Homo sapiens: one gene and its partner. The protein of the gene in region 1 purifies or fractionates together with the protein of each later gene. This does not show direct contact. Each region holds a gene or a part of one and is shown in the gene's direction. Other genes may lie near its edges.

What was found. Proteins that work in one complex are often made in the same cells at the same time.
Region 2: the proteins of ASB7 (region 1) and DNAAF10 purify together in Homo sapiens (affinity purification with mass spectrometry; 2 studies listed by BioGRID and IntAct, with this or other methods). This does not show direct contact.

What each region holds. Positions count from the first base shown.
Region 1 is NC_000015.10:100,605,235-100,613,121, forward strand, and holds part of ASB7 (ankyrin repeat and SOCS box protein 7), read left to right. Parts: intron 1-4,472; 5' UTR 4,473-4,594; intron 4,595-6,931; 5' UTR 6,932-6,982; coding exon 6,983-7,193; intron 7,194-7,887. UniProt on the Homo sapiens protein: Probable substrate-recognition component of a SCF-like ECS (Elongin-Cullin-SOCS-box protein) E3 ubiquitin-protein ligase complex which mediates the ubiquitination and subsequent proteasomal degradation of target proteins.
Region 2 is NC_000002.12:68,132,960-68,140,846, reverse strand, and holds part of DNAAF10 (dynein axonemal assembly factor 10), read left to right. Parts: intron 1-1,989; coding exon 1,990-2,105; intron 2,106-3,413; coding exon 3,414-3,548; intron 3,549-6,047; coding exon 6,048-6,145; coding exon of another isoform or gene 6,146-6,146; exon of another isoform or gene 6,147-6,763; intron 6,764-7,887. UniProt on the Homo sapiens protein: Key assembly factor specifically required for the stability of axonemal dynein heavy chains in cytoplasm.

The sequences.
Region 1 (7,887 bases):
CAGGCATTTAGAATATTTAATTTGGGTATTTATTTACCAACATGGCTAGTTAGGTAGCTTACATTTTTTAACCTGGCAGTTAGCTTTGTATTAATTCTATTGCCAATCATGTGGCTTAAAAAAAATCCAATTTATTTCGTCACCAAATATAGATTTATAATCACGTAGGGAGAATAATTGATTTTAATTGAAGATATGCAATGATGCATCTTTAGTATACTGTGGCCAGTACTTACATTCTTTACACATAAAGTGATGTCATTTACAATTAGTTAATACTATGACACATACAGTATCTCTTTAATTTGTTCACGTTTAACTTTGGTGACATAGAGATACACACCATCCCTAAAAAGTCTAAAGCCAGATATGATTTATATGGGCATATCTGTTACCTGACTTTCAGCCTTCCACATCATAATCCCCTGAATGCCCTCCCTACGTAGGATGATTGTCTCCTTTCTTGCAAACTTTCTAGGAATTGACACATGAGGCTACAAAGATGGTGTTGGCAGACCTAGGTTAATAAGATAATATTGACAGGACCTCATCATTATAATACTTGTGATTTAAGCTTTGAGTTGGGTCTGGATAAGTCCAAAATTTCTTCTGTTGCTTCATCCACACTTCATGAAAATTATTGGTTTCTCTGCTGGAATTTATGTGGGTCATGGATAAGTTGTGCATGGTAATAAATCCTTATGTTATATGGAGGCCCAGTAATTTGGAGGAAATACTAATACCTTTATTTGTTTTGGATCATAACCACTATGCTATACTTTGTTGAGTGACACTAAAATAACACTTATACCTTATTTTGGGTTCCAGGCTCCTGATCATATCAGTAGAGCTTGTGAACAGGCATCTCAGCCATGTTCTCCGTTTTGGTACGGCCGTGTAGTGTTTTTCCATCCATCTTCCCTCTTAGATCTTGTGAATGTGAACCATTGAAGGATTGTTTTTTTTTTCTCAGACCCAATGTCGTCGGAGTTGCTGATTGCATTTATTTTCTTACCAGCATGTATTTTTGTTTACTTTGCAAAGAAATGCTTATTTCTTTCTTTGAGTAATAAGCCATTATCTTGTTGCTAAGTTTATGTGACATCAGAAAGCACAGTTCAGTTTGCATCACTTAATCAGAAATGTGTGGACTTTTAATGATAATAATATGCAAAAAGTCATTAATGTCTAATCATTTATGCCAAAGGAGATTTGGGAAATATGGTCAAATTTGGTGAAGGTTTTGTAACTTCGGACAGGTCTTAAGCATATTTTGTTTTATGTTTATTTTATTCTTCACGCTGTTCTATCATATAGACTTAACTATGTGAAGCAAGAAGTTTTGGGTTTAACTAAATGAACTTCACTTGGCATCTATATGGAAATTAGATGGTAATGTACTTGAATTTCTAAATTAGTAGTTTTTAATATGGTCAATAGTATTAAAGCTTGGAAGCCTAGATTCTTTTCTTTTGACCCCAAGTGGAAAAGAAAGTCTTCCTTGTTTGTTTGCTTTTTTTTTCCTTGTGACTGTGAAAGCTAGAATAAAATTTCTGAAGATCATACCCTCAGAGTATCAGTAGCTCCTGAGTCCACAAAAACATAACTAAACATACATAACTTACAAAATTACCTCCTGGCCGGGCGCGGTGGCTCACACCTGTAATCCTAGCACTTTGGGAGGCCGAGGCGGGCGGATCACAAGGTCAAGAGATCGAGATCATCCTGACTAACATGGTGAAACCTCGTCTCTACTAAAAATACATGAATTAGCCGGGTGTGGTGGCACGCTCCTGTAGTCCCAGCTACTTAGGAGGCTGAGGCAGGAGAATCGCTTGAACCCTGAAGGCAGAGGTTGCAGTGAGCCGAGATCGCACCACTGCACTCCAGCCTGGCAATAGAGCGAGCCTCCGTCTCAAAAAAAAAAAAAAGAAAATTACTTCCTTTGCTATATTCCTTTTCTTTTTATAGGTGACTTCCATGAGCTATCAGTTTTTTAATAAACTCCCTGAGGGAAAATAGGCTTTCTTCCATTCTCATCTCTGGACTTCCTCTGTTGTTTTTTAATAGACATATTTACCACTAGATATTGTGTTTGCTTTTCAGCTCCATAGTCTTTTCTTCATTTATACACGTGACTCGACTCTGTCAGGCGCAGCTCTCATAAAGTAACACCAGGAGGAAATTACTTGTTGATGCTTTTGACTATTTGGGGGTCTTTTGTAATAAATTATTTTCTGTCGTAATTCAAAGCAGTGTAGCTGACAGGGATCATGTGTGCATGACGTGTGTGTATGTTTTTTTCTGGTAAACGTTGATGCACTAGTACATGCAGGGAGTACTTTTTTGGTTTAAACCTGTGGTTATTGTTTATAGCACTTGGTATTTTCAGAAAAGAGAAAAATAATCTTAAAATGTCTGGGATTTTAAAAAATTCATTTTAAGTATGCAGAACTCTATTGGAATACCACCTGGAGGTGCTACCTGTGGCCAAACCCTATCACTGTGCCACGTTAAGTGTCAAGCATTCTGTAGACATTTGTTTGTTTGACTGAAGGAGCTCATATGGAATTAGCACAAGTTGCTACCACCTGTGAATCTTTCTTGTTGGGAGAAATAGTTTGGCCACTTCATCTTTTACCACCAGGCCTTTTCTTGATATTGTTAATAAATTAACACCATTTCCTATTCTGCTCAGCTCTCATGCCGTCTTCCCTGACACTTCCAGCTGCCTCCATGGAAGTGGCGGTGGATAGTTGGAAGCCAGCAACAACCACAAGGATTCTTCAGGCTTGAAGCTATGTTGGGTCATGTTTACTTCTTATGGGAAGTAAGGGGTGCTGAGGACACACTTGGAAGTGAGATGTCCAGTGATGTTCACTCTTGAAATGTAGATGTAGCTCGTGAAAAGTGGTGGCATATTCATTTGTGGCAATGTGTGAGGCTCATCACTGGGGACACTGATTTGCATTTTAAAATAAACTTTATTGTAGGAAAGCTTTGGATTTACAGAACAATTACTGAGGCTGTGCAGAGTTCCTACATGCTCGATACTCAGTTTCTCCTACTAACATCTTATATTAACATGTTTGTCACCACCTTGAGGAGAGACTACCTATACAAATTATTTGGAATTCTGAACAACAGATGTGTTTCTCCCCCTTTATTTATCGAATCAGTTATTTGTATCAATGTGAACTCTTGATATCCACTTTGTACTTTGTCATCTGGTACTGTTTTAAGTATTGCTGCAGTTATTCCCTCTTTGGCTATTGAGGGATCTTTCAGTTGGCTCCTGTGTCCCTTTGACCTCCCCCACCGTGGTGTCTTTCTTTGAGCACCTCCTTGCTTTCTGGCACCGTGTGATGTTCCAGTCTTAGAATCGGCCATTTGTATAAGGATCGCTTTGCATGTTTCACAGCTTGCTTTGTAGGAGTTGTTCTGATCTCGTCGGCCTCATTTATTTAGAAATAATAATAGAATTTTAAAACAAATTTTATTTCCAAGGGCAAGTTGGCAAACTCTTTACCTTCCTTGAAGAGGTTTGTCAAGGAAAAGTAGATGAGAATAGAGGAAAAGAGAGAAGTGGACTATACCAATTTGGATTGGTTGAAAATTCTGGTGTGCAGCCAGCAGGACATACAACTGCTGCGGGCCAGGTTGCTAAGTGGCCCGACCTTTTCTTGTCTGAAGGTTTAAGTGATGCTCACCCACCGTCAGGGGATGAGGTAGTAGTTCTCCCAATATGTAATTCCTAGAGTTTTATGTGGAAGTCACTTTGTGTCCTTAACTTTGTTGGAATTAACAGAGCTGGAATTTAATTGACACGAAGAAAGATCCCTTTTCTTTTAGTTGTGGAGAGAGTTTATTCAGAATTCACATGGGGAACCTGGCAAGGCTGTTGTTAATGTTTTATCTAGTTCGGTGTATGCATAAAGGAATAACAATTTCAAAGTGATTGACTTGATGCCTTTAGGGCACATGAAGAAAATGCATTTAAAGACACAGTCTCCTTTTAGTTGTCATAGATTTTATTTTAACCCAGGCCACCTATTATATTTCATGCACACGTATTCTCATTTAAGTCCTGTTTAGAAAGTGCAGGTGACTTATGGTGTCGGTTAAAAAGTAATTCAGATAAAGCAAGTCTGAAACTGTATTCTCAATAGAGGAAAATGAAGAATCTATGCTTGCATCCAAATTCCAAATATGTGATTTATTATTTTTTTTATTTGCTCTTTCTCAAATAGCTGCATTTTGGGGGGAAAAGCCTGAAACTAAATAGTATTTATTGGAGATGAACATATGTAACAAGATTATTTTCTGTAAGAGTTGATCTGAGTTCTTTCTCTGCTCTATAGATTTATTGTAAAGCACTGAAGTTTACATTCATCAAAAGGTAGACTATGCAGACAGCTATGATTATTATTTTAAGGAATTTTCCTATGATTGTTATTTTTATTTGTTTCTAGGTTAAGAAGGCTTTTTTGCTCTGTAGCCTGGACGTACTTTGAAGCCCCTCCCCACGATGCTGTACGTGCACAATGGTTACTAGGCAATCCGTACATCAGGAGAAGGGACACTCTTCCATAAGGCAAGTTGCCTCAGGGTCATTGGTCATCTGTGTTGTTCCGGGGGAAAGCTCACTTAACTTTTACTTCTCTCTTAAATCAGTTAATGTATACTAAATACACCACTCACTAAAGAAAACCCAGGTTTGTTTTGATATTGTTTCAGTCTTTTTCTTGCATGGTAGGCCTCGTTTAAGTGCCAACATAATCACTTAATTAAAAAGAAAAGCTGTTAAGGATGATTGTGAGCATAGTATGTTTCCATTAATTCCTTCAGACGGTCTTCAGCATTTTCTCTCATAACAGAATAAGCAAAAACCTATTCTGAAAGGATTCTCATTTTAAAATTTCTAAGAAGGGACAATTTTTGTGAAGGAATTGAGAGAAGAAATAAGAGGCAATCTTGTGGCCGGGCGCAGTGGCTCACGCCTGTAATCCTAGCACTTTGGGAGGCCGAGGCTGGTGGATCACGAGGTCAGGAGATCGAGACCATCCTGGCTAACACGGTGAAACCCCGTCTCTACTAAAAATACAAAAAAATTAGCCGGGCGTGGTGGCAGGCGCCTGTAGTCCCAGCTACTTGGGAGGCTGAGGCAGGAGAAAGGTGTGAACCCGGGAGGTGGAGGTTGCAGTGAGCTCAGATCGCGCCACTGCACTCCAACCTGGGTGACAGAGCAAGACTCCGTCTCAAAAAAAAAAAAGAGGCAATCTTGTTTATTCCCATATTTCTCTGAGGAAATAGCTATTTGTAGAAGTAGCTTGATATTTTTAAATTTGAGCACTTAGTTGTGATACTTAGGAGTAGGTAATGACACCATTTTCTATGTATAAAACAACATAGGATATTTGTATTCTTAAGTTGTAATGATTTGACTTAACCTAGGCCTAAGTTTACTTTTGTACAGTCTATAGTAAGTTTTGCAAGATAAACGATTGTTGGTAGCAAGATTATCCTGATATGTCTAACCTACATATGAGAACAGAAATGTCTTTAAAGGGCTTCATCACAGTTTAAAAAATGTTTAGAAACAAAGGGACTACTAGTTAAGAGATGAGTCTAATCTATTCCTTCCAGTTAGCACACCTGGAGTGGCTTTCTGGAAGCTTGTTAGTTTTCTGTATGTAGTTAAAAGCTTAAAAACACACTAAAAATGTTTTTGTATACACACATGTAAGATGCAACTTTTTACCATTTCACTTTGGACTGTTACTGTTTCCATGAAGGAGGTCTCATTTTACTTTCTTATTTTAATTTTTGAGACAGGGTCTTGCTCTGTATCCCAGGCTGGAGTGCAGTGGCACAATCACAGCTCACTGCAGCCTCAACCTCCCAAGCTCAAGTGATCCTCCTGCTTCTACCTGCCGAGTAGCTGGGACTACAGGTGCACACTACCATGCCTGGCTAATTTTTTAATTTTGTATTTTTTTGTAGAGACAGGGTCTCACTGTGTTGTCCAGGTTGGTCTTGAACTCCTGGGCTCAAGTGGTCCCTTTTTCCTTGGCCTCCCAAAGTGCTGGGATTACAAACGTGAGCCACTGTGCCTGGCCAGATATTTCATTGTATGTTGGGTTTTAGTACAGTCCTTTTTTGTGACCTATTAGAGAGTATGAGAATTCACTGTACTACTTTTCCTTTTAGTAATTTGATCATGTGGTTAATCACCAGATTGTTTCGATTCTTTTTTTTTTTTTGAGACAGAATTTCACTCTCTTGCCCAGGCTGGAGTGCAGTGGCGCAATCTCAGCTCAATGAAACCTCCACCTCCCGGGTTCAAGCAATTCTTGTGCCTCAGCCACCCAAATAGCTGGGATTACAGACATGTGCCACCACACCCGGCTAATTTTTGTATTTTTGGTAGAGACAGGGTTTCACTATGTTGGCCAGGCTGGTCTCAAACTCCTGGCCTCAAGTGATCTGCCTGCCTTGGCCTCCCAAAGTGCTAAGACTGTAGGCGTGAGCCACTGTGCTTGGCCTGATTGTTTAGATTCTTAAGGTTTTAAAATATATTGCTACTTTTTTTTTTTTTTTTTTGAGATGGGGTCTTGCCCTGTGGTCCAGGCTGGAGTGCAGTGTTGCTATCATGGCTCACTGCCGCTTTGATCTCCTGGGTTCAGGTCGTCCTCCCACCTCAGCCTCCCAAGTAGCTGGGACTGATCCCCTGGGCTCAGGTGATCCTCCCACCTCAGCCTCCTGAGTTGCTGGGACTATAGGCTTGCACCACCACACCCAGCTAGTAGTATGCACTGTCATTAGTAAGGTTTACTGATGTAGCAAATGGAATGTTCTGTGATATTTAATAGATGCAGTATCAGGAACCAGTTATTCTAAATTTTACCTTTTCTACCTTCTCTTCTTAAAGGCTGATCCCCGTAACCTAATGAATCCTTTGTAAAAAGTGGACTCAGCTAGGATGTTACACCATCATTGTCGAAGGAACCCTGAGCTCCAGGAAGAGTTGCAGATTCAGGCCGCGGTGGCTGCTGGGGATGTCCACACAGTGCGAAAGATGCTAGAACAAGGCTATTCCCCGAATGGCCGAGATGCGAATGGCTGGACTCTGCTTCATTTCTCTGCAGCAAGAGGAAAGGAAAGATGTGTTCGGGTTTTTCTAGAACACGGAGGTGAGTTTTGTAGAAGCAAATCTTTTTCCCCATGGAGAAACATAAATGATGTTTAGTTTAAAATGTGTCTATTTGTAATTTTTAATGCTTCTCTTCTGTTAATACTCAACATATTATTCTCTCTCCTTTGTGAAGATTTGCTATAAGTGTGCCTTTTTGTTTAAAACCAGATTGTTTAAAAGATCAGTTTTATGAATGGATTCTTTTCCCTGAAACTGTAGTGTCTGTACAGCCAGGTTTGCCCAGGTTATTTCAGCTAAGCTACCTTTCTTCAGGTTGTCCAGCTGCTTTTGTTTCAGAAGCAGAAGTGGCTGTGGTATGCCCATAATTAGAGAATTGCACAAGTTTCCCCTGTTGATTATTGCTTAAGCGTATAGACCGAGCACCAGTCCTTTAAACATCATGGCCTAATGATACCCTATCCTTATCTTTTTGTTTCAGATGCTTTCCTTTGTTATTTTAGAGCACTTGTTTTTTCCAGAAACTGTACATAGTTTGTAGGTATACTATAAGAAGATTGGTTATCTGAGATCTAATTTTGTATAAATATGTGCAATTGGAAACTATATTTGACATATTAATGTTTTTGCTTTGAAAAACTGTTCATTCCCATGGTTTTTAAACCAATGATTGTCCAAAACTACTTTCTCCAGTTGAATTTCAGCCTACTTTATTTTCCTAGAGATGGGTTTTT
Region 2 (7,887 bases), on another chromosome or scaffold:
GCAAATTTTTTTCCAAATATTTTCGATCCATTGTTGGTTGCCTATAGATGCAGAACCCATGGATAGGGAGGGCCAACGGTAGAAGAGAGTAATAGTAGGAATATCCTTAGAGATGGCTCAGGACAATGGCCAGAGGTGTTAGGACGGCCTGAAGATAGTTCTAAGTTTTTGATGGTGTTTGCAAGGAAGAGATGAAATCCGAGCTTTAGGAAAATGAACTAGTGGTATTTAGCGGGAGTGATGAGTGGTACAGAGAATATGAGTTCAAGAGCTCTTTGCAGTATTCCAGGGAAGACCTAAGTTACAAGCACTGAGAAGGGAGCAGAGTGGATGATTCAGAAGATAATATTATGCAGAATACATAGAATTTGGGAATGTTTTTGGATATGAAGAACAAAGAAAAGGATAATGTCCAAGATGACTGAGTTTTCAGGCTGATTGTGGGGTGAATGATGGTATTAATTGAAAAAATTATACAAGGGGTGGGATAATTTGTAAAGGAAAATGGTAAGGTCATTTTGGGACATCATGAGTTTAAGATGATGGTGTACCATCTAGGTGGGGCCCACAGTGGAAATGCAGGGCTGGAGTTTATGAGAAAAACGAAGTTAGGGGCAATGAAAGCATTGGGATAGGATGCCCAGATAGCATAGCACAGTGACAGGGGCCTCCTTCTCACTTAACACTCTTTCCTCAGCAAGAGATACTTGGAAAAAAATCCTTGAATTAATTCCAGGAGGATGAGTTTAACCACAGATTATAAACTTACTTCAGGTATGATCATCCACACTACTAAAAATATGTCACAGTGTGCTACAACTTATTTCAGATTTCCTTGTAAAGATGGAATCACACCAGAGCAACATTTTTCAAGATAAATTAGTTTTAAAGTTTCTGTTTGCATTCAAATATAGTTACTGCCAAGAAAGCAATAGAGGTATAACTGTATTTATTCTCTGAGACCCCTTTGTGTTTGAGCTGTAGTTGGCCTGCTAGCCTTTGCAGATATAGTAGAAAGCATTTTCTTTTCTTTTTTTTTTTTTGAGACAGAGTCTCGCTTTGTTGCCCAGGCTGGAGTGCATTGGCGCGATCTTGGTTCACTGCAAGCTCTGCCTCCCAGGTTCATGCCATTCTCCTGCCTCAGCCTCCCGAGTAGCTGGGACTACAGGCGCCTGCCACCACACCCGGCTAATTTTTTGTATTTTTTTCTTTTTTTTTTTTTTTTAGTAGAGACAGGGTTTCACTGTGTTAGCCAGGATGGTCTCGATCTCCTATAAAGCATTTTATTTAAATTGAATTCAATAAACACTTTCACATATCCTTTCAGTATGGAATTACAGTGAATGAGCTTATATTAGTTAGTCTGCTTTGCATTGAATTGCTTTATTGCTATAAAGGAATACCTGAGACTGGGTAGTTTATAAAGAAAAGAGTTTTATTTGGCTCATGATTCTGCAAGAGTATCCAAGAAGCATGGTGCCAGTATCTGCTCCTGGTGAGACCTCAGGAATTGTCTGCTCATGGCAGAAGGCAAAAGGGGAGCAGGCATGTCACATGGCGAGAGAGGGAGCAAGAGAGAGGGGAGGAGGGAGGTGCCAGACTCTTTAACAACCAGACCTCACATGAACTAGAAGAGCGAAAACTCATTACCATAAGGACTGCACTGAGCCATTCACGAGGGATCCAGCCCCATGACCCAGCACCTCCCATCAGGCCCCACCTCCGACATTGGGGATCATACGTCAACATCAGATTTGGGGGGACAAATATCCAAACTCTTATCAGAAATTTAAACAAAACAAAAAACTAATGGATACCACATTAATAATCTTGATGTCCTCTCAGGATTGGTAAGATGGGATACTACCCAGTGTGATTTTTAAGATCTGATTTAATATAAGTTTTATGTTAGTTTCATAAGACTTTTTTAAAGCAGCCTTTATAAGGATGCATTTATAAGGATGTGAAATGTTGTATCTTGATTTCCAGGCAATGCTTATAATCAAGAAGAACGTGTTGTTTGTGCTGGCTATGACAATGGGGATATCAAACTATTTGATCTCAGAAATATGGCATTACGGTGGGAGACAAACATCAAAAATGGGGTAAAGTACATTCTGAGGCTTTTTGGTTTCTCTGAGCATGTTTCCATTCACCTCTGAACTATTACAAAAGGAAAACACCTCTAGTAACTCATCTGAGTCAACCCCTCTGCCAACGGTTCTTAACTTTTTGAGGCCAAATCCGTTTGAGAATCTAATGAAAATCCTGGATCCTCTCTTCAGAAAATGAGCTCACACCCACATGTGGTTTGCACAGCGTTGGGGGAGTCACCAGCCCCTTCAGCCTGTCTGCAGACCCCTGTGGGCCATGTAGTAAGATTTCAAAATAAGCAAGTAAAAGGTCTTTTTATGCCAATATCAGAAAGCCTGAAACAGTAGTCACCTCCCCAGCTCAGATTTTTGGTTCCTTAGTTGTGCACCTTTAGCAAAGAATGTGGTTTCCTCCTGTTTTCTACTGTTAGCCTTTACTTAACTGTTAAATAATGTAAAAAGTTAAATAATGATTCCCCAAAGGCATTCACTGAGCATGGGAACCCAAGATTGTTTTGTTGATCTTACTAATGGAAAAAAAAAATGGGTTTTTTGTTTGTTTGTTTGTTTGTTTGTTTTGAGATGGAGTCTTGCTCTGTCGCCCAGGCTGGAGTGCAGTGGCGCGATGTTGGCTCACTGCAAGCTCTGCCTCCCAGGTTCATGCCATTCTCCTGCCTCAGCCTCCCGAGTAACTGGGACTACAGGCGCCTGTCACCATGCCCGGCTAATTTTTCATATTTTTTAGTAGAGACGGGGTTTCATCGTGTTAGCCAGGATGGTCTCAATCTCCTGACCTCATGATCTGCCTGCCTTGGCCTCCCAAAGTGCTGGGATTACAGGCGTGAGCCACTGTGCCTGGCCAAAAAAAAAAAAAATGTTTTTTTTTTGAGACAGAGTCTCACTCTGTCGCCCAGGATGGAGTGCAGTGGCATGATCTTAGCTCACTGCAACCTCTGCCTCCCGGGTTCAAGCAATTCTCCTGCCTCAGCCTCCCAAGTAGCTGGGACTACAGGCGCACGCCACCACGCCTGGCTAATTTTTGTATTTTTAGTAGAGACAGGGTTTCACCATGTAGGTCAGGCTGGTCTTGATCTCCTGACTTCGTGATCCACCTGCCTTGGCCTCCCAAAGTGCTGGGATTACAGGCATAAGCCACCGCGCCTGGCTGGAAAAAAATTTTTATGGGAAAAGTTAAAAGATAAATGATTGTTGGAGTGCTTTCACATTATCTGACCATTTTAAAGCTGTTTTACTTAGTATAAAAGAGCCTCCTGAGTAATACTGGTGAGACTACCAATAATAAGTATTCTCTGTTTTCAGGTGTGTAGCTTGGAGTTTGACAGAAAAGACATAAGTATGAATAAGTTAGTAGCCACATCTCTGGAAGGAAAGTTCCATGTTTTTGACATGAGAACACAGCATCCAACCAAAGGTTTTGCCTCTGTTTCAGAAAAGGTAAATATGAGGGAAATGTCTTTCTATGAAGAAGAATGATAGCTTGGTTTAGACTGATAAGTAGAATTAGTCACCAAGGTTTCTTCCAGGTCTTTATGTGAAGGGAGCTATTTTTGATATATTCCTGTGAGATCTTGACAAGTTTTTCTGTGCAAAGAGTACTTCCCCAAAGTTTATCAACTTTAGACTTCTTGATTATAATAAAGATCTCAGGTAGGAATCTTATTTTGTAGTTTAGGAGCAATTAGAAGAAACCTAGCTGATATTAGGAATTTGATCAACAAAACCCAGCCTGGTGTTTCCTAATAAGTATATAATATTTGTGCTAATACCTGGTTATATATTTTTCAAAATAAACTATATGTACATGATGTCATTTCATTACACTTTGTTTTATATTCCAGTTTGCTATATTAAATGAAATTATTTGAATCACTGAGTACTGTGATTATAGTAAATGTTCAAAAATATTTACTTACTTAACTTTGCCTTGCATTTGAGGTAGCTGAGAGGGAAATGCGGTATTATGGCGTTAGACCAATAGATGAGGAAAGCAGGGCAAAGGGAAAATACTGGTTTAAAAAAAAGATAGTTTCTGGACTGGGGGGATTACAGAAAATTCATGCAGAAAGGTCCTGTCATTCACAAGAAATGGATTGGAAATGTGATTTGAACTTCCTCAAGTATAAAAAGAAAGAAAGATCAGTTACAGATTCCTTGTTTCCATAAGATTAAAATATACAAGTTGCTCAGGAAGTGAGAACTTACTCCGTTGCTTCTCTCTCTCCTGTGGATTCAGTAGGATTTCTTGAACCTTTCTATTTTGTCTCATTATTATTATTGTGTGTAAATTATTGTCACTTCCTTATGAAAACCAAATTCTTAACAAGATAGCTATAAATTATAATATTGGTTTGCTTTTGTCATTTCAGAATATATTAAGTATCTATCAACAACATAAATCACTTTACTAAACTGTTCCATGTATAATTTGCAACACATATTTCATTATCTATACATAATAGTGTCATCTCTGGTTTTTTGTTTTGTTTGTTTGGCTTTTTTTTTTTTTTTTTTTCTGGAGACAGAATCTTGCCCTCTTACCCAGGCTGGTGTGCAGTGGCATGATTATGGCTCACTGCAGTCTCAAACTCCTGGGCTCAAGTGATCCTCCTGCCTCAGCCTCCCAAGTAGCTGGGAGTACAGGCACACGCCACCATATCTGGCTAATTAGATTTTTTTTTTTTCATAGAGTCAGAGTCTTGCTGTGTTGCCCAGTCTGGACTTGAAACCTGACCTCAAGTGATCCTCCTGCCTCAGCCTCCCAAAGTGCTGGGATTATGGGCGTGAGCCACTATACCTGGCCCAGTTTTTTAAAATTATATTTAGTTAATCCAGTAATTGCTAAATCTGCCAAATAGAAGACTCTGGTGTATTTTAAGAGGTCATTTCCCCTCTTGCTTTTTGTGTTTTTCTCAACTTCCTGAAGAAGAAGAGAAGTTTAAGCTACAAAATAAAATGTTTCGACAGCTTGAACCTAATCACTGAGAGACTGTTACACACTCAAAATGTGTGTTTTGAGATATGAGTCTTTATCTGCTAATGGTAATTCTCTCAAAAGACTATTGAAATCAAAGGTCAAGACTAATCACTCACTAAAATGTGGTGTACCACGATAGCCAGCCCCACTGCTTCTACAAAGCAGCAGTCATTCATTCCCTCCCGCCTCCTTTCTCTCTCTCCCTCTGTCTCTCTCTCTCTCCTAAGTTCCCCCCAGTTAATGCAGTGGCGCCGGGATGGATTTACTGGCTGCTTTTGAGGTGCTAACAACCTGTTAACCTTCCAGTTGCTGGTTTTTAATCTTTTAGTCTAATGTGAATGATAAAGACCTTAGCTTATTATGACCATAAACATTGTCTGTAAGTCCTCATGGTCCTTATTTTGAAGACTGGACAGGTAAATGGCAATAAATTGAAAATAAGGCTCTGGGAGCTGTTAGTTAAATTTCGGTCTATAAATTTTAGTTAAAATTCAGTCTATGTACTTATTGCTGAGTTTTGCTGTGAACCTCAAACTGCTCTCAGAACTAAAGTGTATTTTTTTAATTCAGTCCACATTTTTCGTATATATAAACAAAAGTATATGTTTTTATATTTTGAGTGTTTTCCCCCTCAGAATGAACTAGAGGTATTTAAATATGTAAAATCTATTTTCATAAGTATTTGATACTATAAACTTAAATGGATTTTAATACCTGTCTTTTTAAAAATCCAGTAGAACTTTGTTTCATAAAGCAATAAAGAAAAATGATGCTTTTTCTAATTTCTTATGTGTTCCTATAAATCTCTATAGCCATTATAAAGAGATGTGCCAGAAAATAACCTTAATTACTTTTATAACCATTGAAATTATAGTTGTAAGAGTTTTTTATTTGCAGCGTTTCTCTTCCAGGGCACCATTTAGCATATAAACCAGTTGTATGCCTCTTGTTCTATTTAGGCTCATAAATCTACTGTGTGGCAGGTCCGACACCTGCCGCAGAACAGGGAGCTCTTTCTGACAGCTGGAGGCGCCGGCGGCCTTCACCTCTGGAAGTAGTAAGTCTGCCAGTGCACACTGCTCCTTTTAAAGTTACCTGTGGGTGTAAAGTAGGATTAGATTGAACTTTTTTTTCTTTTTTTTCCTGCTTTGACTTAGTTCATTTTGATATGATTTAAAATTTCATGGTGTTACATAACTTGTTTTCTAAGCATTTTGTATGAATATACTTTACACTTAGTAGAGTGTACACTAATCTTCTTTTGATACATTTTAGTATATCATTTTAGTTGTGTCTTCTAAGTATGAAAAAGTTGGCCCAAGACTTTTATCAGATACTATCTTGAAGTGATTAGAACACTCACTGCCTCTAAAAGATGGGGAAAGGGTTCCTTGCCTAAATTTAGATAACATCATTGTGATAGACCCCAACAGAGCCTGAGGCTGCTGATTGGTCTCCAGGAAAGATCTTATCACTGAATTTGCTTTCTGCATATCTAGGCAGGGTGAGTTACAATGAAAGCTTTTACTATGCACACCACTTTCTGAATCCCAAGGGCGCTAACATCACAGATACTAGATCATTTAAAAGGTCTGATATCATTGCTCAGGGTTGGCCTGTGAAAAGGAAACAAAACAAAACAAAACAAAAATTAAAGGTCTGATAAAAATTGTGAGTTAATGGTATTTCTGAATACTTTATTAGCTAAGCAATATGTACTTGGAGGGGAAAAATTATATCTTTCTTAAACATCACTCAGGGAAAAAACAGCAAGCCCATAAATGAAGGATATTTCAAAAATAAAGTTTCATTAATAATGTAAGAAGAAAAACACCATCCTCAATATATCTGGGACTTTCACATTTATAAAATTCTTCTCTATTAGCTCCTTTGAGAAGCTGGAAGGGGTTCTGAAAAACAGGGCTACAGTTGGAAAGTACTTGTTAAAGTACTGTGTGCAGGGATACCGCTGACAAAAAGCAGATCGAATGCTTTATCTTATATTTTCTGACAAAGTCTTGCTCTGTCACCCAGGCTGGAGTGCAGTGGCATGATCTCGTCTCACCGCAGACTCCACCTCCAGGTTCAAGGGGTTCTCCTGCCTCAGCCTCCCGAGTAACTAGGATTACAGGTGCCCGCCACGACGCCTGGCTAATTTTTGTATTTTTAGTAGAGACGGGGTTTCACCATGTTGGCCAGGCTGATCTCGAACTCCTGACCTCAGGTGATTCACCTGCCTCGGCCTCCCACAGTATTGGAATTATGGGTGTGAGCCACTGCACCCAGCCAGAGTGAACACTTTAGATCGAAGCAGTATGATTATGGCAAAACCGGGTCTCTACTAAAAATACAAGAACTAGCCGGGCGTGGTGGCACACGTCCCAGCTACTTAGGAGGCTGAGGCACGAGAATTGCCTGAATCTGGGAGGTGGAGGTCTCAGTGAGTCGAGATCGCACCACTGCACTCCAACCTGGGTGACAGAGTGAGACAGAGCGACAGAGACTTTTTCTGTCTCAACAAACAAACAAACAAACAAACAACCAATATGGTTTCTGAGTGAAAAGCAGAGGAAAAGTTTGAGTCGTTCTGGGAGAATGTGGGGTAGAGAGATCACTTGCTACTTTCCCTTCTTCTAGCACCTCTGCCTGTTGTTCTTCCCTGATTCTTCCATCCCGGTCTCCTCCCCACGTTAGACTCTGCCAGTCCCCTTAGTGAAGCCATGTGGTGGCACATCACTATTTTACTTGGTGACCAAACTCTTTAGGCTGCTCGCTTGAAGAACTAGTCCCAGTTTTCTT